3 linked regions of the Homo sapiens genome follow. The protein of the gene in region 3 interacts with the protein of the main gene of each other region in a biochemical or structural test. Each region holds a gene or a part of one and is shown on either strand. Other genes may lie near its edges.

Region 1 (7,749 bases), on a different chromosome or scaffold from region 3:
TCTCAGGGATTCCCCTATGTATGAAGCATGTCAATATTATCATATAGATCTTATAACTTCCATCTTGACTGCTCTTCTGTTGAGTTCTTGGCTCTGCTGTGCTGCAGATTACACAGGCTTCCAGATAAGTCACCTCCAGTGAGATGTAATGTTACTGGGACGACTTTTAACGTTCAACCAATGGTACTTGTCTATAATCCACAAAACTGTCATTTAAATGACTTTTTAAATGGCAAAATACCCTGAAAATGACAATTCTGTACCCAAGCTGAAGAGCACCTTCTAGACCCTTACCACATATATCTATTTTTATCCTCTCCCTTGAGACTCCAGTTGGCCCTCCTTCTTTATTCCATTTTCTTCTATTTTTTCCGCAATTCCACTTTAGCTTACTCTTCTGTCTTTGGATGTTCAAGAGATATTTACTGTATTTTCTAATCAGAAGGAAATGGGCTTAACTAAGAAAATACAAAGTTTATTTTTTTCCATAATCTCTCGAAAATATGATCTTAAGGAACAATTTCCATCTTGCATTACAGAAAATGATAATGCAAGTTAATCAAGGTGAAAGGGATTATAAAATATTATCTTCCATGATTATACTTGATGAAGCAATTGTTCCTTTATGACATTTTAACTAGGACTAAATCTGCTAAAAAGTATATCTAATAGCCTATTTCTTCATGTTTCTGATGCATGCATTATTGCTTCTACTTTTATTAATACAACTGAATCTATGAAACACTGCTTTTTCTATGATTTGCTCAATGTAATACATTTAATAAAGCAAACATTTTAAAGGCTACTTTCAGCAAACTATTTCACAAGAGAAATATCCCAAGCACACTAAAAAATAAATCAAATTAAATCATGATTGGAATTGTTGGAATCATTTATTTGGGGAATGACTCTTTTATTCAATTTTTACACTTTTGATGTACCTAAAAGCAAAATTACATATCATAAATTTAAGCAATGTGCTTGATAAAACCTAGAATGTGTCACCAATAAACAATATGAAAAATTTAAGTTTTAAGATTAACTTCAAATAAGTTCTTCCCAAACACTGAAAAATAACATTGCACTCACTGGGATAAGTATAAAATGAGTATTTTTCCAAATATAAGCGATGTCACCTGATGCAATTCTCTGGCTCACTCACTGTAACTTCCTACCTCTACCATAACAGACTCCATCAGGATGGATGTCTTCCAATTCTGAACTGTACAGAAGGCAAAATATTTATGAAAAACATTAGCATCATTCATAAGAATTAACATTCATCAATTAAAATTTGAACCCAGACCTGAAAAAAAAAATTGTTGATTAAAAAAATTGTTAAAAACACCTCAAGTTCCTACACAAAAAAAGCAAGATTATAAAACTCAAGTATGGTATAACAACTATTCCAAAATGGATGCTGTTCTCAGTTTTAGTATAGACTTAAAAGAAAAAATGAATAGTCCATTGGCTCTTTCCAGCTCTCATCCAACATCTGTTCATAGCAGCTACAACCAGGTTATTTGCAGCCATGCAGTTATTTTCAGGCTAAGAATAAACCTGTCCATGCTGTTCTGAGAACTGTTACCCAGGCATTTTTTGTTAGACAACATAAAGACCATCTATTTTACCTTCCTTATATTCAAAAACAAGGAAACTGAGGCTCAGAGAGATTTAGTGCCTGGCCCTCCCAATTCAAGCAATTCATACTAGCACTAAGCAAGACCTAAAACCAAGTTTTCTCAATTGTTTCTACGAATATGGGTCAACTCTGAGGATCAGAACCACTGACTGTTTTCCTGGGATGGAATGGGCCTTTGGAAATTTACCAGCTGTGTGATCCTGAGCAAATTACAACTTTTCCAAGTCCCCTTTTCCTCTTCTACAAAATGCAGAGAGTACCTACTACTCTAACAAGGTTGTGAGGATTATGTTCGGCTTGTAAAGTGCTTAGCACAGTGATTAGGAAATTTTAAGCATTCGAAAACAGGTAGCTATTATTTTTACTCCCAACCTGAAAACATGGCTGCTCCTAATCATGGCTGTATGAGAAGACAACGAACTGAATTCATTAACACAATGGACAGGGTCCCATCCACCAGAGCTTCTCTGGCCTACCACATTCTACAAACAGTAAAAAACCCCATCAAACAACCTATTTCATTCCATCTAAAATGATCATCCCTTACACTATTAAAAAAAATTGAAATTGCTGCCATATGTGTTCTGCTACGTGTTGTACACTGAATATGTCAACTAGAAACTGCAGAGGAGTTTCTGGTTCCACCCAAAACATGAAGAACAAACGACGGGAAAACAAGAGTTAGATAAGGTCACACACCTGAACTGGAACTCAGGACCTTATTCTCAGCACATTTAGTTATTGATGGTAGAAAGCAAGATGCTTTAAGCACCATAAAGCAGGAATAATGGCTACCTCAACAAAATAAAATTCCCTAGGTTTCTCAACAAAATAGAATCCGTTTACTTTCCCTAGTAAATTCATACGCACATGGGCAATAATTGAGCATCTTTCTTGTAAAACTGAGGATTAAGCTGTGTCTGAGCTGCGATGTATGCTAAGATCATACAAATCTATGAAAAAGTCCTATGAAATGGCGAGACAAAATGATGGGGAATATCACCTTGAAATCAATAAGGAAGGAATCATAATGTCTTGCCAAAGTCGTCTCCGTTGATAAAATCCCGACCCTCCATTTCATGACACTGCACATCCACTTCCCTCTAAGGAAATTAACAGGAATCACCGCAGCAACCAACCTCAGCAATCAGCATCGACCAGATCAACCCCTACTCAAATGGCGATAAGCACTGCGGGTCCCAGCCCCTCCCTGTAACTGCCAACTCCCGCGCTGACTCCGGACTACCTCACTTCCTTTCAGTTCTCCCTCCCACTCTCGACCCACGATGTTTGTCCCAAAACTCGCCACTGACAGAAAAAACAGAAACAAGACAGTCTTCCTAAACTTTGTCCAGGAAGCACCAGGCTACACATACCCGTCCCTATTACGATCACATCAAACTCCGAAGGGAGAGTATCCGCCATCTTGACGGGAAACGTGTCATGTGACTATTACTTGTGGAAATGAGATCAAGTTAGGCATTCCCTCCGTGGAAGGCGGAAAAGAAAACAGTGCATTCTGGGTGTTGTAGTTCTTGGGTGGAAGGTCCAGGCAGGCGACTACAGTATTATATTTAAAATGTTTACACGTAAGTTAAAAGCTCGACTCATTTTCCAGGCTGAATGCTGTAGCTCATTTAGCCTGGAGGGTTGAAGTAGGAAAGAAATGTAGATTTTTATTCCGTTAGCTAGGATGAATGTGGGAGACTTGGATACCCCTTGACAATACTGAAGCAAAATTGTTAGGAGACACGGAGAGCGGAGTGAAATTGAAGGCGGTTTGCTCTGTGAACAAAGGAGACTTTCATTCCAGCCTAAAAAACTGTTTCCCGCCATCGTTTCTGTACTTTCGTGTTGGCCCTCGAGGCATGGTTTTTCACACCAATACTTTCAGAATATATTCCATATCTTTTTCGTTTCCATGTCTCCTCGATGAAAACCCACAAAAAACCTCTCACCCTAGTTTCGCCAGAATGGAACTCCCACCGCGTCCGTATTTGTTCCAGTTAGTCCAGACAGCCACTCGGGCAATAAATTAGCCTTGCTTTACAGGAGGGAAAAAATATATGAAAGCATGGTTGCGCTGGATAAGCGTCTGTTGAGTCTGAATTCGATTTTCCGCACCAACTAGATAAGTTCATGTAAGATTCTCCTTAGTTTACATTTAGTTTCCAATCTATTAGTTTCCATAAGCTACCGTAGAAATAATTAAGGTAAAATGGTCTTTATATTAAAGTGATTGTATCTGATGAGGGGCTTTAGGTCGTCTATGTCTAACAGCTAACATAGCTCTCATAAGTATCTTCAAGGTCTGTCGCCTCCCACCGCTTCCCTCCAACCGCCCCCCACCCTGCCCCCGATTATTTAATACTCCGCTGTCTGACAACACCAAAGCAAAAGGGGAAGGATGCTGGGAATGAAGGAGGATACTTTTTTGACGACAGAAATTTCTTGTGTAGTTATTTTACAAGAGTTTCAAAATAAATCAAAGATAATGTGCAGTAGTGGGCCTTCCCTGACACCACCTATCCGCTAAGATGCTTGTGGTTCCCCAGACATTGTTTTCTTTCCAGTCTCTGACCACGCTCATGCTGTTCTTTCAGCATGGAATGATCTTCCCATTCTCTAGCTAACAGTTATTCCCAGGATGTCGCTGGGCTTCCACCTCCTCCTCCTTTCGTCTCCGTGTGTGGGCTGTTTCCCTACATGGTGCTAGACTTTGTCTTAACCCGCCATACTGCATTTATGACGATTCCTATAGAGTACACATATCCCCATATATCCACACAAAAATACACACCCAGACATGCAATACCATAATTATAAACCCCTGTACAGCATGACAGACACCAAGTCTCATTTATCTTTTTCACTCCTGCACCTAACCTAAGCCCGGTGCATAGTAGGAATTTAATAAATGTTTGCTAAACCAAACTTGATTTTGACTCCCCTAATAGATGGATGAGACGAGTCCCTGTCCTCATAGTGCTTACCATCTTTGCCTTTATATCTGCCCACCACTATCATGTGTCTTATATTTAGAAGATGTTCAGTGTCCATTAATTGTAAATATTTACATGAAAATGCTTTAAAATGTATTTTGATACGCTTTTTACTGCATTTCTCTTGCATTTTACCATAATCATTAGCAACATTGTACATGTTTCATTACTTTCTTTTATAGATCATCCAGTTGTATTACACAACTCTCTTAAGATATGGTCTTTGATTAGTATTTTCTGTAAAACAGATTCCCCTGAGAAGTATAATGTACTGTTCAGTAAACCACTTTGTCATTTGCCTTGGTATGTAAAGCAAGTTTTTAGTATTATCAGAAGTGAAACAGATATTATTTGTGAGACTCTTGATAAGACAGTAGAAAATGGAAACAAATGGATTTCTCAGAGTAAACACAGAAAACTTTCCAAAATCTTCTCTAATAATGAGAAGCCACAGATGGATGGTTAAAAACCTGATAAATAAAAGTATTTCTACCATACTTTGGATATATATTTATATACATTTGTTCATGTATACGAGATATATAAACTACATACATATACTTTTCAATATGAGTATCACTGACCTTCTAGGGATTCAGAAATTTTCTGACAATCACACCATGAAGATGCAATTCATTAATTTGTTTATTCCTCAAATATTCATTCAGCACCTACTATGTGCAAGACACTATTTTGGATGCTGAGATTAGAGCAATGAACAAAACAGACAACAACCCCTGTCTTCATGAAGTTTACATTTAGTAGGGTAAAACAAAATAAACAAGTAATTACTCTGTAGCATAGATTTTCCAATCTGTGCTGCCCTTAGTTTGAAACCTTCTTTTTTTCCCCTAAGGATAGAAAGCACAATCCTCAGAAGGATAATATTACCAACTTATATTTTGCTGTTCTTTCTCTAAAGTTATTATGGGACTTATTCATGCCCTTTTCTGGGCATGGAAAAGATTACTACATTAGGAAAATTTCAATCTTGTGCATGGAGAAAATGCTCCAAATACCTTTTATTTCAAATGTATTTTTGTAGACTTTATGCAAAGTAAAGATGAATATAGGAGTTAATAATTGCAGTAAAAAAAGCGTAAAGCAAAACAGCTGAATTGCATCTATTCTGTTATTCTAAGGACATCTTTTTTTTTTTTTTTTTTTTTTTTTGAGACGGAGTCTCTCTCTGTCGCCCAGGCTGGAGTGCAGTGGCGCCATCTCCGCTCACTGCAAGCTCCGCCTCCCGGGTTCACGCCATTCTCCTGCCTCAGCCTCCCGAGTTGCGGGGACTACAGGCGCCCGCCACCACACACGGCTAATTTTTTGTATTTTTAGTAGAGACGGGGTTTCACCATGTTAGCCAAGATGGTCTCCATCTCCTGACCTCGTGATCCGCCCGCCTTGACCTCCCAAAGTGCTGGGATTACAGGCGTGAGCCACCCCACTGGGCCAAAGACTATGTACATTGGAGATAGTCATCTTGCATAATATGTCTCAGAGATTCTCTGAATTTCTTGAATTTGCATGTCGACCTCTCTTGCAAGGTTGGGGAATTTTTCATGTATTATATCCTGAAATATGTTTTTCAACTTGCTTACTGTCACTTCTTTTCTCTCAGGAATGCCAATGAGTTGTAGGTTTGATCATTTTACATAATCCCATATCTCTCCGAGGCTTCATTCATTTTTTGAAACTCCTTTTTCTTTTTCTTTGTCTGTGTAGGTTGATTAGAATAACCAGTCTTCAAGCACCAAAATTCTTTCCTCTGCTTTGTCTAGTCTGTTGTTAAGGCATTCAACTGTATTTTGAAATTCCTATAGTGAATTTTCCAATTTCAGAAGTTCAGTTTGGTTATTTATTAATATGACTGCTTCATCTGTCAAGTCTTGGATCGTTTTTCTGGCTTCCTTGGATTGAATTTCAAGGATGCTTACTGAGCATCCTTGACATCCAGTTTCTGAATTCTTTGTCTCATTTCAGACATTTCAATTGAAAAGAGATTCTTAGAAAATAGTTGTGTTTGTATGAATGTGTATCTCTTAACACTATGAAAAATAAGCAATAATAATTCAGGAAGTAGATTATTACATCTTATTATAAGTTCCAGACTTATAAAGAATTTTTTTCAATTCAGAACTAGTATTAAAGCTAATTTTGAATTAAAAAATGTGTCTCCAAGCCTGTAGTTGTAGTGGTGGTAAAAATTTACCAGTACCAATACTCTGGACAATAAAACAGAGCTAAAAGTAAAGAAAGTCCAGTCTACTGGAGAATATCCTCAAATTACATGAACTAGTGCTGTTGTGAGTATACAACCCCCTTGAGGAGTTTCACAATATATCCAGATGAAGTTAACTTAAAGTTTTCCATTTCAAATGTGTATAAATACTATTCTATCATACCATTTTTGTTTATAAAATTGAGGTCTTTGAGTTCATGTTCAATTCCATCTTTAAAAGATAATCAATGTCATGACAGCAATTATTTCCATATATTAGAAATATTTTTTAAGTGTTAGTTTTAGTAACAAAATGATTATTTGTACTAACTATTGTATTTGTCAGCTTCTTCAATACAGAAATATTCAGAACACATTTACATTTTTCATAGTCCCTGCAAAACAAAACAAAACGAAACAAAACAAAGAGGCTGAATAATTTTGTGGGAATTTCATCAACCTTTATAGAAAGTCTTGCTATTCTTCTTTTAGCTGTTTAATTGTAATGTCATAGTAACAGAAAGCAGCATACCCAATTTTGCATGGATGAATAAACACATTCAATAAGGAAGATTTAACAGAGTAAATCAAACACTGGATTAAACATTTTCTGCATAACAGACCACAAAATGGGCATTCATTTTACCAATGGATCCTTGGCATTAGAAGCAAATAGAAGTGCATACCAACATAATTAAACTGAATATTCAGTGGCCTGATTGCAAAGTTTCCCAATATTTTATCAAACGATCTTCCAGTTAATTAAAATTGCCTATACATATTCAAGCACACACATAGAAAAGATTAAGTATAGATACTACTCATTTAAATTTATAATTCAATAGATTAACTTGTTTTCTTCTATTTTTTATCCCCAAAGTTTG
Region 2 (7,111 bases), on a different chromosome or scaffold from region 3:
GTGTCTCTCCTTCCTCCAGGTGCGTGAACTTTGGCCAGCATACAACCACTCCTGAGAAAACGCTGGTCTCAGGTGGAAACATTCTCTGATCCACAGCACATTCAACTCCCACCCTTTTCATGCCACTTTCACATACCCTATTCTTTCTACTTGGCTACTCCTCCCTATAAAACAACTTCCCCCTTGTACCTAACTCTAGAGACCCTTAAAGATCTTAAGGTCAGAGGTTCTCATATGGCAACAGTCCTTCCTCCCTAAAACGAAACAGTATCTTTCTCCCCTTTGCAATAATCCTTTCCAGTGAAGTCTCTCCTTCCTCAAGCATGGCTTGTTTTTTATTTGGCATTAGAAATACAAATTCTCGGGCCCCACTCCATACTTTCTGAATCAGAAACTGGGGGGGGGGGGGGCGGGGGGTGGAGGGCGATGTACCCAATAATGCATTTCTCACAAGGTCTCCAGGCACAGTGTGGGAAGCACTGATTTGAGGCCATCCTGCTAAGAATCTGATGAGTGCATTCAACACTTTAATTCTCTCCCGCTGGCGTTTGACAGTTTAGGTGCAAGCTGTTTCTGAGGCTTACGGTGGAAAAGTTCTTAGCGTCCCCACAGACTACTTCCCGTAAAGTCACTACCCAAGGGCACACAAGGCCATGGGGCGCCATCTTCCCTCCCACCGCGTGGGGCCGAGGAAGCCCAAACCCGCACCTACTTACATCTCCGTCCATCGGCCTCTGGTCGTCACAGTCCCTGGTGGGGCTAATGTCCTGGCGCATGACCCAGATGGGCTCTTTGGGCTCGTCGGGGGTGTAAGGCGAACGGATGGTCCTGGTTTTCACCTCCTCGATGGCCTCCTTGATGTCCTTGATGGCCAGCGAGATGGCATCGCGCTTCTCCTTGCTGTACCGCTGCCCCGCCTCGCCGCCGCCCGCGGGGCCCACCGCCCGCTGCTGCCCCGCCGGCGCCTGCAGCCCGGGGCTGTCGGGGCGACCCCCGGCCGGGGTAGGGGGACGCTCCAGGTCCTGCTCGGCCTCAGGCATGTCCTCGGCTGCCTTGTCGAGGCTCTGCGAGCTCATGCTCTGCTTCACCTCGGCCACTATCTGGTCGATGTCCTCCTCCTGCTCGTAGCTGTCCATGCGCGGGTAGGGCGCGAACTCGGCCTCCTTCTCGGGGCTGTCGGACTCGCCGTCGGAGCGCTCGTCGTAATGGTGCAGCCGCGCGCCCAGGGCCTCCTGGCGGTACGCGGCCGCCTCGTCGCGCTCCTGCTCGTAGAGCCGCAGGCCGTCGCGTGCGTCCAGCTCGGGCGCGTCCCCTATCTCCTCGTACACGTGCTCCTGGAGGCCGCCGTAGTCGGCATAGGGCTCGGAGTAGGGCTCGTCCTCACCGCGGTGGAAGAGCCGGTGCGTGTAGACGTAGCCTGAGTAGGCCGCATTCATGGCTTCCTCGTGCTCCAGCGAGTGGAAGTGCAGGTGGTTGGGCAGCGCGCGGCGGTGCGTGGCCTCGGCGTGCTCGGCCTCTGCCTGCTCCGTGTACTCCTCGGCCTCGGGCCGGTACTGCACAGCATAGGCGCTCTCGTCCTCGGGGTCCTGCGCGCGCTCCGCATCGTAGCCGTCGCGGGCCGCGGCGATCACGTCGCCCTCGGCGGTGTCCGTGTGGTTGTGGAAGCCGCTCTCCGTGCTGGCTGAGCGCGCCAGGCATTCCCCGCGCTCCTCTTCCTCCTGGCCGAGCTGGGCGCGGAGGTCCTCGAGGGCTCGCCCGCGCTGGTGGCGGCCCACATAGTGCTGCTGCTGCGGCGGCTGCTGCTGTTCCTCTTCCACCTCGGGGTGCTCCAGGTCGGCCTCCACCGACTCGTTCACCTCCCCACCTGCCGCCTCGTCGGTCACCTCCACCTCCGCAGACCCCTCCAAGTGGTTCATGGTGGGAGTCGGAACGGCTAGGAGAGAAGCTGGGCCCGGCTCACTGCGCTCTCATTTTGCTCCACTGGGCTGGAAAAACAAGAAGGGGAGAGGCTGTCACGTGGTGCAAACAGTCGTTATGAGCTGAGTATTCAGATAACCATAAAAACAACTGCTATTGATTCCTTTTAGTTCTGGGTCAATTAAAAAAAGACTGCAAATTTAAGTTCAATCTGACAGCACATACATAGCACGCATCATAATTTGTAATTACATATCTACTTGTTTAATTGCTTATTGCCTTTCTCCGTTCCCACCCCTCACACTGAGCGCCTCAGGAACGTTTTGTTCTCCACCACGCATACGATTCAGGTCCCATTTCTGATGCATCTGAATAAAGAGTACTACTAAATTGAATGGGCCAACTGACACATTTTCCATCTGCTAACAGATAAATCTCTCCAAATTAAACTAGGATCCTACAACTTTAGAAATCACTCTTTACATCAATTTCAAAGAAACATAATCTTGAACACCTTTTGAAGCCATTCTGAGAGAGGCTATCAGCCAGCAGTGGGGTCCCGCCCCGGTTCTGTCATTACTGACTTTGTGACCTCAGGCAAGTGGCTTAATTTTCTGGACCTCCACGGTGTGACTGGACTCATTTCCTACATGCAGGATGTTAACAGCTATTATATAGGGTAAAAAAGACTCGGTGGTCAAGTAAGTTTGGAAAATGCTGAGTTACAGTTGACTTTTCATTGTTAATATCCAGAAGGAGGAAGATGCAGGACACAGGGTTTCCCTAACTTGTTTGACCAGGAGACACTTTTTCCTAGAGGCCAATGTTACATAGCAGCTGGTTTCTAATAGTTAGGCTTCCCTATTGCGCACTCAGCATCCAGGATACAACCAACCACGGAAGACAATATTAGGGGAAAATATCCAACACAATACAACAATAAAAAATAATGCAAGTAAAAATACAGTATAACAACAATTTATATAGCATTTATATTGTATTAGGTATTATGAGAAATCTAGAGATGATTTACAGTATATGGGAGGATGTGCATAGATCATATGCAAATACTATACCATTTTATAATGGATTTTTATATCCACTGGGGTCCTGAAACCAACCCCCATGGATACCAAGGGAGGACTATATTCACTTTCCCCATGTAACCTGAATCTAAAATTCTAAGATTTTATGAGTTGCCATTATAGCTAGAACTGGATAACAGGTGTAATTTTTTAAAAATATGGGTAGGTCTCTTTCTATTTTCAGAGAAACTTGTAGCTCGAGAGAAAGATTTGGTTTCAGTCTCTCTCAATTCTTCTTATCACAAAATAGCTTTATGGTATAATCTGTGCAGTATATAGAAATAGACACAAAGAATGTAAACAACCACAACAAAACAGGCAGGACCCCTATGATTTTGAGATCCCTATGGTAAATAGGCTCAACAGTATGTGTAAACTTGCTATTATGTTCTTTTGGAGAGCCTTTCTTACAAATGGACACAATGGATGGGAAGTGAACTCTTAAATATGATAACAGACAACCCCAGGAGGACCAGGGACATCTGATGGACTCTCTAGTAGTGAGATGCATTATATTCTACTCAACTCCCCATCACAACCACAGCAATTTCCTTCAAGCATTGATGACCATCCCAATAACAAAGGAGATCATTTTGGAGCTACCAAGTCCACATTCAAGCAGAAGTATCATGTCTTCCCCATTCTTTGATGGATCCACCCCTGACTGATTCTCGCTAGAAGAAAAGAATCACGGTTTACAAGAGATGAACAATCTTTATTGCTTCGCTACTTGACATAAGTCCCACTTGATACAAATTAGACCCAACCTCTTTTGAAAAATTTTGGGCTCCTCCCATTAACTCCTGAGAACAGCGACTGTGGACTAAGTATAAGAAAGTCTCCAAAAGCAAGTATGAATCTCCCTTCAAACCTTGATGGATGGTTAAGGCTGTAAACCAGCAGCAGGGTGGGGTGGGGAATGATTAGAAGCTGTTCCACCTCAGATCATGAGGCATTAGTTAGATTTTCATAAGAGTGCATGACCTAGATCCTTTGCATGTGCAGTTCACAATAGAGTTCATGCTCCAATACTGGTCCATGGCCCAGTGGTTGGGGACCCCTGCTCTAAACAGAAGCAGCAAGTGTTGCTGCTACGGGCCTCCAGTGGATTATAAGAAACACAAAACAAATATTCAATTCAATACAACACATGGACAAGAACATCATACCCAAGTTGCCTTCATAAGGACTTTCTCAAAAAGACAACAGATAAACCTTCATTAAATCTACATTGGGTTCTTAAGGTACAAATCTAATTCTAATAAACACAAAGTGAGCATTCACAGAAAGGGATAGCAAACATATCACAGACTTTCTTGGGTTCTGTTACCCAGAGGTGTCACAGTTGTGTGTGGTCAGCGTAAGAAAAACAGTAACAAAAACCACAGAAAGTACCTGAATGACCAACAATTCATGATAACCATATGTGGAACTGACCAAAATGCTGCCTTCAGGGAAAATGGCTGTTCTTTAGCTTGATGAAAATCTATTGACATATGTATTAAAAAGAAATTTTAGCTTATTCTGGGTTAAAATCGGTGAATGGTGCCCTCTTATAACCCATGTATTGATTCAAAGGAAATGGAACTTCCTTGCGTGTATATACACTAAACTGTGGTAAAGGAAGTTCTCTGGTGGGGCAGGGGGTGGTGGAAGATAGTGTTAATGTAGTTTTGGTACAATAGATCTTTTTGTTCACTAAGTACCTTCTCCTTATACCCCCATCCACAGACCTCACGGGAGTATTTACACATACAGTGTTTGTATTTTACACACCATCATGTTTCCAAGAATATGATTTGGGTTGTGGTATTGCAACATGTTAATGAATAACAGACATTGACTTTGGGGGTTTCCCTAGGACAAAAAGGCAATTGTCAACTTTTAAGGAAGGAGCCGAAGTTGATGCTTAGGTTTATCCCTACACACAAGAGGACTGTTCTCCATACGCTGGCAACTTTGGGAGTGGTATTTATAAAAAACATTTAAGCTGCTTTTTAAAAATCCTAGGTTATTGTGGGAGTATATTATTGGTACAAAATTTTTGAAAAGCAATTTGGCAAGATGAATTAAATTCTTCAAAAGGTAACATACCTTTTGCCCCAGTAATTCTACATATAGAAGTCTAAAAGAAAAAACTTGAATGTGGACAAAAATGTTTCTCACAGTATTTTCTTCAAAAGCAAAAATTTTAAACACCAAATATTAAGCGCTAATATTTATTAGGTACTGATAAGTACAATGCTAATCATATTAGGGTTATATTGTGATCAGAAAGATGTGGGGGTTTTCTCTCTGGGAAGCTCCACCTGGAGTTCCCATAACACTTCAACTCAGCCAGCCACAGCTGAAGAAATCACACCTCCTCACCTTCCCTACCCACCCTCGCTCTCAAACTGGGTTCCCTCCTGTATTTCCCATATGGGCAAATGGTACCACCAGCCACCCACTGAATCATCTCCTTCCCTTATCTCCCTCCTCAAACTGATGCCAGAGTCCACTGTCTTAATAACTCTTGGATCAGTCTTGCTGCCACTGCTTTGTCTTGGTCTGTCTTGACTACCTGGTTGTTTCCTTGACTCTGATTTATCAGCCCCCTCCAGTCCATCCTCCCCACTGCCAGCCTGATGATCTTTAAAAAATACAAATCTGAATCCCATAACCCTACTCCTCAAACTCTTCAGTGATTCCCTTCTAGGGCACAGTATAAATGCTTAGCTAACTATGTCCCAGGTACTACTAGGCATTTTCCACGTGACACATTTAACCTTCACACTAGCTAATGAAGAGTACTGCCATTATCAGCTCTTCTGAAAATGAAGAAACAAGTGATTAGAAAGGTTAGGTGATTGTCCCAGGTCACACATCTGGTAAGGGAGGCCCCCTGACATTTGATCTTTGCACTCTAGCTCTGGGGTCTGGGCTCTTGAGTCCTATTCCTGGCCAACAAAGACCTTGGGATGCTTCACCCCTTTAGTCCATCTCCACACTTCATCCCGCACCCTGCATTCTAACAGCCAAAGTCCTGGTGTTGGCCCTAACTGCCCTCCCTATTCATGGCATATTTTAACCTATAACTTTTCTTTGGTGAATCTTTCTTGTCTTCCCCAGGCCACATTCATACTTGATGAATGTTAATTAGGTGCCAGCCTCCAGGCACATTCGAGGCACTGGGGCAGAACAGTGAGCAAGCCAGAGGAGGCTTCCCTGCTTTCAGGAAGTCCCCATTCTAGTGCACTGGGTCGGGGGTCAGAGGGAAAAAAGGGCAGACAATAATTATGTAAGTAAGTAAACAAGATAACTTCATAGGGAAACATTTTATGAAGGTAATACAAAACAGAGTAACGCCATAGAAAATGACTGAGGAGAGGACATTATGTAGATATTATTCAAAGAATGAGATATTTGAGTTGAGGTCTGAATAATCAAGAAAGAGGTGGCCTTGTGAAGATCTGAGGGCAAGGGCTTTGAGGTGAGAAAGGATCAGCTGTGTTCAAGGACAGAAATAATGTTTGTAGGCAGGTGTGGCGTGAGTAAGGGACAGTGTGATGGGCGATGAGGACAAAGAGATGGAAAGGGGCTGAGTTGGGCAGGGTCTGGTACATCATGGTAAAGGATGTGGATTTTATTTCAAGTGTGGTGGCATGCTACTGGGGAGTTTAAGCAGGGGATTGATAAGGCCCAACTAAGCCTCCCTTTGTGCCCGCTGTGCTTTTTCTCTCTCTCCCTTTCCCTTTCTCTCTCCGTCTCACACATACTCACACCATTTTATACACACACACACACACACATATATAAATTATATATATATATATGTGTGTGTGTATATATATAAAATTTATCATGGCTTCTATCATTCTGAGTGGTAATTCTTTGTAAGTATCAAGTCCTTAAGAAAAAGATGTTTTGTCATGTATCTTTGATTTTCTGATGCCAAGCACAGAGGGTATACAGAAGGTGGTAAAGGAATTTTTAGTAACTGAAAAAGGAAAAATCTTTATCCCCCACCCCTCCCACCCAATAGTTGGGGCCTTATAGACTTCTAGACATTGGCATGATCAGCCTTTGGAGAAGAACTCATTTCTTCTTTCTATCTTAAATCTTTGCTG
Region 3 (7,111 bases):
CTTATGAGATCTAAAAAAAGCAAAATATTTACTGGCTTCATGTCTAAACAAACTTGCACAAGAGTTATTTACACATGGGCTTAAACAAAATAAAATTCATTTCCCTTAAGGACTGGCTGTTTAATATTTACATTTATATTTGAGGTTCCCATGCTAAAGAAAAGCAGGGGAGGACGTAAACTTAAGGATTAAGCATGTCTCCTTTCAAAACAATTTCTCAGTGAACAAAAATAAAAGGCTGCATCACAGAAATCAAACATTACACACATATAAAATAACTCCATACCTCTTGTCAGCAAGATCTGTTTTATTTCCTACTAGCATGATGATAACATCACTTCCTCTTTCTGTTCTGACATCATCAATCCACTTTGTAGTTTGCTGGAATGAGTTAACATCTAGTATAGGAGGGTAGACAGAGAGATTAGTGTTGCTGAAAAATGCCTCCCCAGGTGGTGGGCACCTCCCTCCAAAAAAGCCCTGGAAGTTGGAAGGGGGCTGGCACATTAGTACCCCACTTTTAATGTGCCTGCAACATAACTCCATTTTATCTGATTACAACTGTCAGCAATTTAAACAAATTACAAGAATAAAATCTTCAAGGTTCCTTTTAGAGTAGTTTAAAAATTTTTTGAACATGATCAAATGAGTACAATGTAGTATTTAATTGAAAAAAAAACAACTTTTTGAAATATAAGGACAGCTATGGCAGATAATATGGTGTCACATTGCCACAATGCTTTTTTGATCACTTACACATACCAAACATGACAAAGAAAGCATTTTCCAAAGTATGTCAGCCAGTAAGTCCCAACACATCCAGAAAATCTGTAAAGCCTTTCAATAGCTTTCAACACCACTGTTTGCACTGCTTCCTCAGTTTGTGATCACTTTAACCTAAAGTTTATTTGTTTAATGCATCAGAAACACTTGTAACAAAATTTATCTTTTCTAGTGTTGGATTCTAAGTAGAGTACTTCAACACTTCTTACAGCAGCTAAAGAAAACAACGTACTAATATTTGAATCACATTTGTGGATTTAAAAAAAAATACACCAGGTTTCACTTGCTGTGGTTAAAGTAAGCACAAACATTTTAAAGCTACAAAACGTGTCAATGCACAATATGAACATACCTCTTTTTTTTAAACAAACAGCAACCCAAAGTAAAGGTGCAAAGGAAGAAAGACTGCATATAGCACCTATCTCAAAAAAAGTCCTTGAATGCAATCTTCTAATTTTGCCAGCACAATTATTCGTTATTAGATAACAATTCCTAATTGAGGAGATATGCAAGAATGCATAGTAACAGTATTACTAGTCCAAATGAATAGTTCCTTTGTCTATTTAAGATTTTTTTTAGCCCAAGATACTACATCTGTGTAGTGTGGTACACATTTTTTAAAAATTTAAAAAGAAAGCCCCAGATACTGGGCTGGGCACAATGGTTCATGCCTGTAACCCTAGCACTTTAGTTTTTGTTGTTGTTGTTGTAGTTGAGACAGAGTTTTGTTCTTGTTGCCCAGGCTGGAGTGCAATGGCACGGTCTTGGCTCACTGCAACCTCCGCCTCCCAGGTTCAAGAGGTTTTCCTGCCTCAGTCTCTCAAGTAGCTGGGATTACAGGCATGCACCACCACACCTGGCTAATTTTGCATTTTTAGTAGAGATGGAGTTTCATCACGTTGGTCAGGCTGGTCTCAAACTCCTGACCTCAGGTGATCCGCCTGCCTTGGCCACCCAAAATATGGGGATTTCCGGCGTGAGCCACTGTGCCCGGCCTAAACCTAGCACTTTAGAAGGCTGAGGCAGGAGGATCACTTGAACCCAGGAGTTCAAGACCCTGGTTTTCCTATAAGTTATGAACCACTACATGTAATAATGTTTAATATTGCCTAATATATGTCATAAACCAATTTACAAAGGCAATTTCAATCAGAAAGCATTTTCTTGTCAGTCACCAATGCTTCATGGAAAATTTACAATCACTTAAAAGGCCACAGGCATTATTCAATCTTTAGAAAAAAGAAAAAGACTACTAGTTGTTTCACCTCCTATTTAAAATTTTTTTCTTGGAGAGAAATGAAAGTGTAATTTGTTAGCAACAAAGTAAATAAATCAGTCACAGAACCAAAATATGATTCAAATAAAAAAGATTAATAGAAAACTGTACATTATGTTTTCTCTGTCTTCCTCTACAGAGAGAGAATGGCTGGAAGGGGAAAGCAGAGAAAAGCTGGCTAGCAGAAGCTTGTAATAGCCTCAATAGAAAGCTTGGAGGATTTGGAAAACCTGGCAAGAGACTTAAATGCAGATCATTTTATTTTAGAGAAATCTGAGATCAAGGAAACATTCCTCCAACTATAATTATGGTATGGTTTACGAATAACAGGATACTAAGAAACCCTTGAAGAGGATTCATAGTTGGACCCAAAAGAAAATTTCTGGGGCAAAAAACCTGGCACAGTTACATATAAAGCATATTGGTATAAACACCAAAGCAAATATTTCTGACCTGGCTGGTATGTAATTTACTATGATAAAACTTATTTTTACATGCCAGTAAGGAAAACAAGCACAAGACAAGAACATGCATGCAGCTAAGCTAAAGGTTGAAAGAAGATTAGAAATGCATAATTCCCTCCACTCACTTGTGATATCATAAACAACAACTGCCACAGTGGAGTCACGAATGTAGCTAGGAATCAAGCTCCTGAACCGCTCTTGACCTGCTGTGTCCCATAATTGCAATCGTACCTAACAACAAAATCAGTCAAACAAGCAAGAAAAATAAGAAAGGTCAACCCGTTGCAATATACCTACTTGTGATATCGTAAACTACTACAGCTGCAGCAGAATCACGGATGTAACTGGGAATGAGGCTACGGAAACGTTCCTGACCCGCAGTATCCCACAGCTGAAGCCTGATCTGTGAGATGGGAAAAAATAAATAAAAAAAAAAAAACCAAACTAATACTAAAAAGAAAAAAGAAACAATGTTTTTTGTAAAAGGGAGAGGGTGGGAAGGAAGTAGAAAGAAGACTCATGCAAGAGGTTGCAGGGAGTGAGGAATGAAAATAACACAAAACTCCTTTTTCAAAAGGGAGAAATATTAAAAATTTGCATACTCCAAACATAAATGACTGGAAAATGCCACTGGGAAAAATTTCACAGAATCAGAAATATGGCTTCCCTTTTTCCCTACCTAAAACCTGTTTGAATCCCTATGCCTTTCAAGTGGCAAAAAGTAGACTGTTGATGGTTAAATAGAGAAAAAAACAAAACAAAACAAAAAAACCTAAGGTAAATGTCAATGAGCAGCCTAAGCTATCAGAGTAAAGGAATTAATGCTTCTTTGAAAGCTTCTCTCAAGCTAAAATGTGTCTCTTTCCTATTGGGTCTAGAATACTTTCAAACCTGTTTTTTAACTACCGTGCTTGTATTTCTCCCATACATTTTCCCCAGAACATGCGAGTGTGTGCGCGCACGCATGCACGCGTGTGTGTGTATAATGTAACAAAAAGGAGGAAGATCTTTTTGCAGCCCTACATAAAAATGTCTTTACGTACTATCCATATCTATATTACAGGAAGAAAAGCCTGAAAACAAGTATCAAGTTCTTGCATCATGATAAAGTCGTTTCCAAGCTTTCAAATTTTTTTTTTTTTTTTTAGACAGACTCTCATTCTTGTCGCTCAGGCTGAAGTGCAGTGGTGTGATCTCGGCTCACTGCAACCTCTGCCTCCCGGGTTCAAACGATTCTCCTGCCTCAGCCTCCCGAGTAGCTGGGATTACAGGCGCCCGCCACCACGCCCAGCTAATTTTTGTATTTTTAGAAAAGATGGGGTTTCGCCATGTTGGCCAGGCTGGTCTTCAACTCCTGACCTCAGGTGATCTGTCCATCCTGGCCTCCCAAAGTGCTGGGATTACAGGCGTGAGCCACCACACCTGGCCGCTTTCAAATTTTAAGAAATGACATGCTATATATCAAAACATAAAAGAGAATATTCAGGAAAAAAAAAACACCTAAGAAATAACACTGGAAATTAAATAATGTTTTTGGGTGCAGGTCTCAAAGTACTGCATTTAAGATATTCACTGTTTAGGTGACAAGTATCTCTTCAAGGGGTAGTGGGCTAGAATACAGATTTTACACTGTATTTAAAGAAAACATTCCAAAGGATGAAAGACAAAAATCCAACAAATAAATACACATTACTTTTTTTTTTTTTTTTTGCAACGGAGTTTCGCTCTTGTTGCCCAGGCTAGAGTGCAATGGCGCAATCTCAGCTCACTGCAACCTCTGCATCCTGGATTCAAGCGATTCTCCTGCCTCAGCCTCCCAAGTAGCTGGGATTATAGGCGCCCGCCACCACGCCTGGCTAATTTTTTGTATTTTTAATAGAGATGGGGTTTCATCATGTTGGCCAAGCTGGTCTCAAACTCCTGACCTCAGATGATCCACCTGCCTCAGCCTCCCAAAGTGCTGGGATTACAGGTGTGAGCCACCGCACCCTGCCCACATAACTTCTTTTTTGTCAGTCACTTTGATACGCATCCTATCCTGACAAAAAAAATCTTGAAGTTCACAAATTGAAATCTTTTTGAATGCCTCAAGGGTGGCATTTAGAAGGTCTTTAGCAGGTTTAATTTCTTCATAAAAATTCTCCTTTAATTCTCTGTAAAGCTCTTTGTTTTCATTTTTCCAAATCAAGATGACTGCCAAGTACTACTCACTCGGTAATAAGAGTTTTTCTCAACAACTGTAAACTATCTTTGGTAACTTTGCTAAGTACTTCTTATGGTGACAATCATTGATAACTTTGATTGCAGTTTTCTAACCTGGAATGTTGCAGAAAATTGCACACTGAAAATATTACTCACTGTTCGATCCTCCAAGTACATAGTTTTTGATAAAAAGTCAATGCCAATTGTTGCCTGTAAAACAAAACAAAGAAGTTAACAAATAATAAGTTTAATGGTGGCCAGCAGTTTAGGATTCAAATGGGATTCATGATTGTGGAAGAAATAATGAATAAACAAATCAATACAACATAGTCAATTAAGGACAATTAAGGACAAACAAAATTTCCAGTGATAATGATTTTCATGTATTCAGCACTTGCTTCATATCAGAGATTGTTTTAAGCCTTTTACATGATCATCTCTAATCTTTATACATTCCTGCCAGGTAGCTTATTCTCATCCCTACTTTTCTCATTTTACAAATAACAAGACAATGGCAACTTTGGTTTAAATATTTGTATTTGAACTTTAGTTTGAGTATCTGATTGTTCTCCACTCAGAATGGTAAGTATCTGCCCCAAGAGCAGTTTTATAAAATACTGTTGATATATTGTCAACTGTCCTAATGCCATAGACAGCCAGAGACTCACAAACATCATAACTTTCCATAAGAGACATGATTTTTCCAATATAAAATAAAAGTCATTAGGTAAGGAAAACAAGTTTTCCTCTGTACCACACAATGATAGCTTCCTTCTGTGGTGAAAACAAATGTAAAGTTCTATTGCCTGGCTGCTGTTTTCCCTATCAAGAGAAAATGGTGAAATAATAAGAGAATAGAAAGAAGGCAGACTACAAAAAAGAAAGGAAAAAAAGTATACAAGTTAAAAAACAGTCCAGTATTAATTAGGGGAGATAAATAAAAAGAATGGAAGAAAGACAGACTCCAGAAAGAGGATGTTGATATGGACTCTATTTTAGAAGTTTTACCACCTCATTAATGTTTGTGTGCACATATACTATGTATATATGTGCGTGTACATACATACTTTTTCCCTAAATATCTTTGTGCCATATTCCTTAAAACAGAAACTGAGTCTGTGCATTTTAAAATATGAGTCACTAAGAATTTTAAGTTCCTAAAAAACAATCAAAAACTAGATCAGAAAAGTGGTCCATCAGTTGGGGATTTTATTTCTGTTAGCAGAAAAATAGAATTTTGTGTGTGTCATAGTTGAGTTCTCACGAGATCTGATGGTTTTATAAAAGGATTTCCCCTCTCTTTGCTCTGTGCTTCTCCTTGTTGCTGCCATGTGAAGAAGGACATGTTTGCTTCCCCTTCTGCCATGATTGTAAGTTTCCTGAGGCCTCCCCAGCCATGTGGAACTTGAGTCTATTAAACCTCTTTCCTTTATAAATTACCCAGTCTTGGGTTATCTCTTTATTAGCAGCATGAGAACAAACTAATACATGTGTCTCCTTTAATTTCTCCCAGCAGTGTTTTGTATAGTCTTATGCTGTTTGTTAAATTTGTTCCTAAGTATTTTATTCTTTTCTGATGCTTCCGTAAATAAAATTCAAATATATATGTGTGTGTGTATATATATATATATATATATATATATATATATATATATTTTTTTTTTTTTTTTTTTTTTTTGAGACAGTCTCACACTCTTGCCCAAGCTGGTATATAGGGGTGTGATTTTGTCTCAGTGCAGCCTCAACCTCCTGGCTCAAGCAATCCTCTCGAGTAGCTGGGACTACAGGTGCATGCCACCATGCCCCACTAATTTCTGTATTTTTTTATAGAGACAGGGTTTTGCCATGTTGTCCAGGCTAGTCTGGAACCCCTAGGTTCAAGAGATCTTCCCCACTTGGCCTTCCAACACGCTGGGACTATAGGCATGAGCCACTACACCCTGCCTAAAGATAATATCTTTATATGAAAAATCAATGCAATGTTGATAAGTCTTTACATGTTTTTACATATATTCAAGAATGAAAGCTACAGTAAATTACATAAATTGATTATCTACTAAGTGCCGATTTATACACATTGCCCCATTTAGTTCTCATTTATTCGTTCATCGATTATTTATTTATTTATTTATTTAGAGACAGAGTCTCGCTCAGTCGCCCAGGCTGGAGTGCAGTGGCGTGATCTCGGCTCACCGCAATTTCTGCCTCCTGGGTTCAAGCAATTTTAGTGCCTCAGCCTCTCAAGTAGCTGGGATTACAGGCATTCACCACCAAGCCCAGCTACTTTTTGTATTTTTAGTAGAGATGGGGTTTTGTCATGTTGGACAGGCTGGTCTCGAACTCCTGGCCTCAAGTGATTCCCCCCGACCTCGGCCTCCCAAAGTGC

The links.
Region 1: the proteins of RAB6A (region 3) and CHM form a complex in vitro, tested with the Homo sapiens proteins (one study listed by BioGRID).
Region 2: the proteins of RAB6A (region 3) and APBA1 form a complex in vitro, tested with the Homo sapiens proteins (one study listed by IntAct).

What each region holds. Positions count from the first base shown.
Region 1 is NC_000023.11:86,044,466-86,052,214, forward strand, and holds the start of CHM (rab proteins geranylgeranyltransferase component A 1), read right to left. Parts: upstream 3,094-7,749; 5' UTR 3,068-3,093; coding exon 3,019-3,067; intron 2,864-3,018; exon of another isoform or gene 2,646-2,863; intron 1-2,645. UniProt on the Homo sapiens protein: Substrate-binding subunit of the Rab geranylgeranyltransferase (GGTase) complex.
Region 2 is NC_000009.12:69,515,295-69,522,405, forward strand, and holds part of APBA1 (amyloid-beta A4 precursor protein-binding family A member 1), read right to left. Parts: intron 1,986-7,111; 5' UTR 1,917-1,985; coding exon 717-1,916; intron 1-716. UniProt on the Homo sapiens protein: Putative function in synaptic vesicle exocytosis by binding to Munc18-1, an essential component of the synaptic vesicle exocytotic machinery. May modulate processing of the amyloid-beta precursor protein (APP) and hence formation of APP-beta.
Region 3 is NC_000011.10:73,715,965-73,723,075, forward strand, and holds part of RAB6A (ras-related protein Rab-6A), read right to left. Parts: intron 4,936-7,111; coding exon 4,882-4,935; intron 2,927-4,881; coding exon of another isoform or gene 2,821-2,926; intron 2,755-2,820; coding exon 2,649-2,754; intron 399-2,648; coding exon 287-398; intron 1-286. UniProt on the Homo sapiens protein: The small GTPases Rab are key regulators of intracellular membrane trafficking, from the formation of transport vesicles to their fusion with membranes.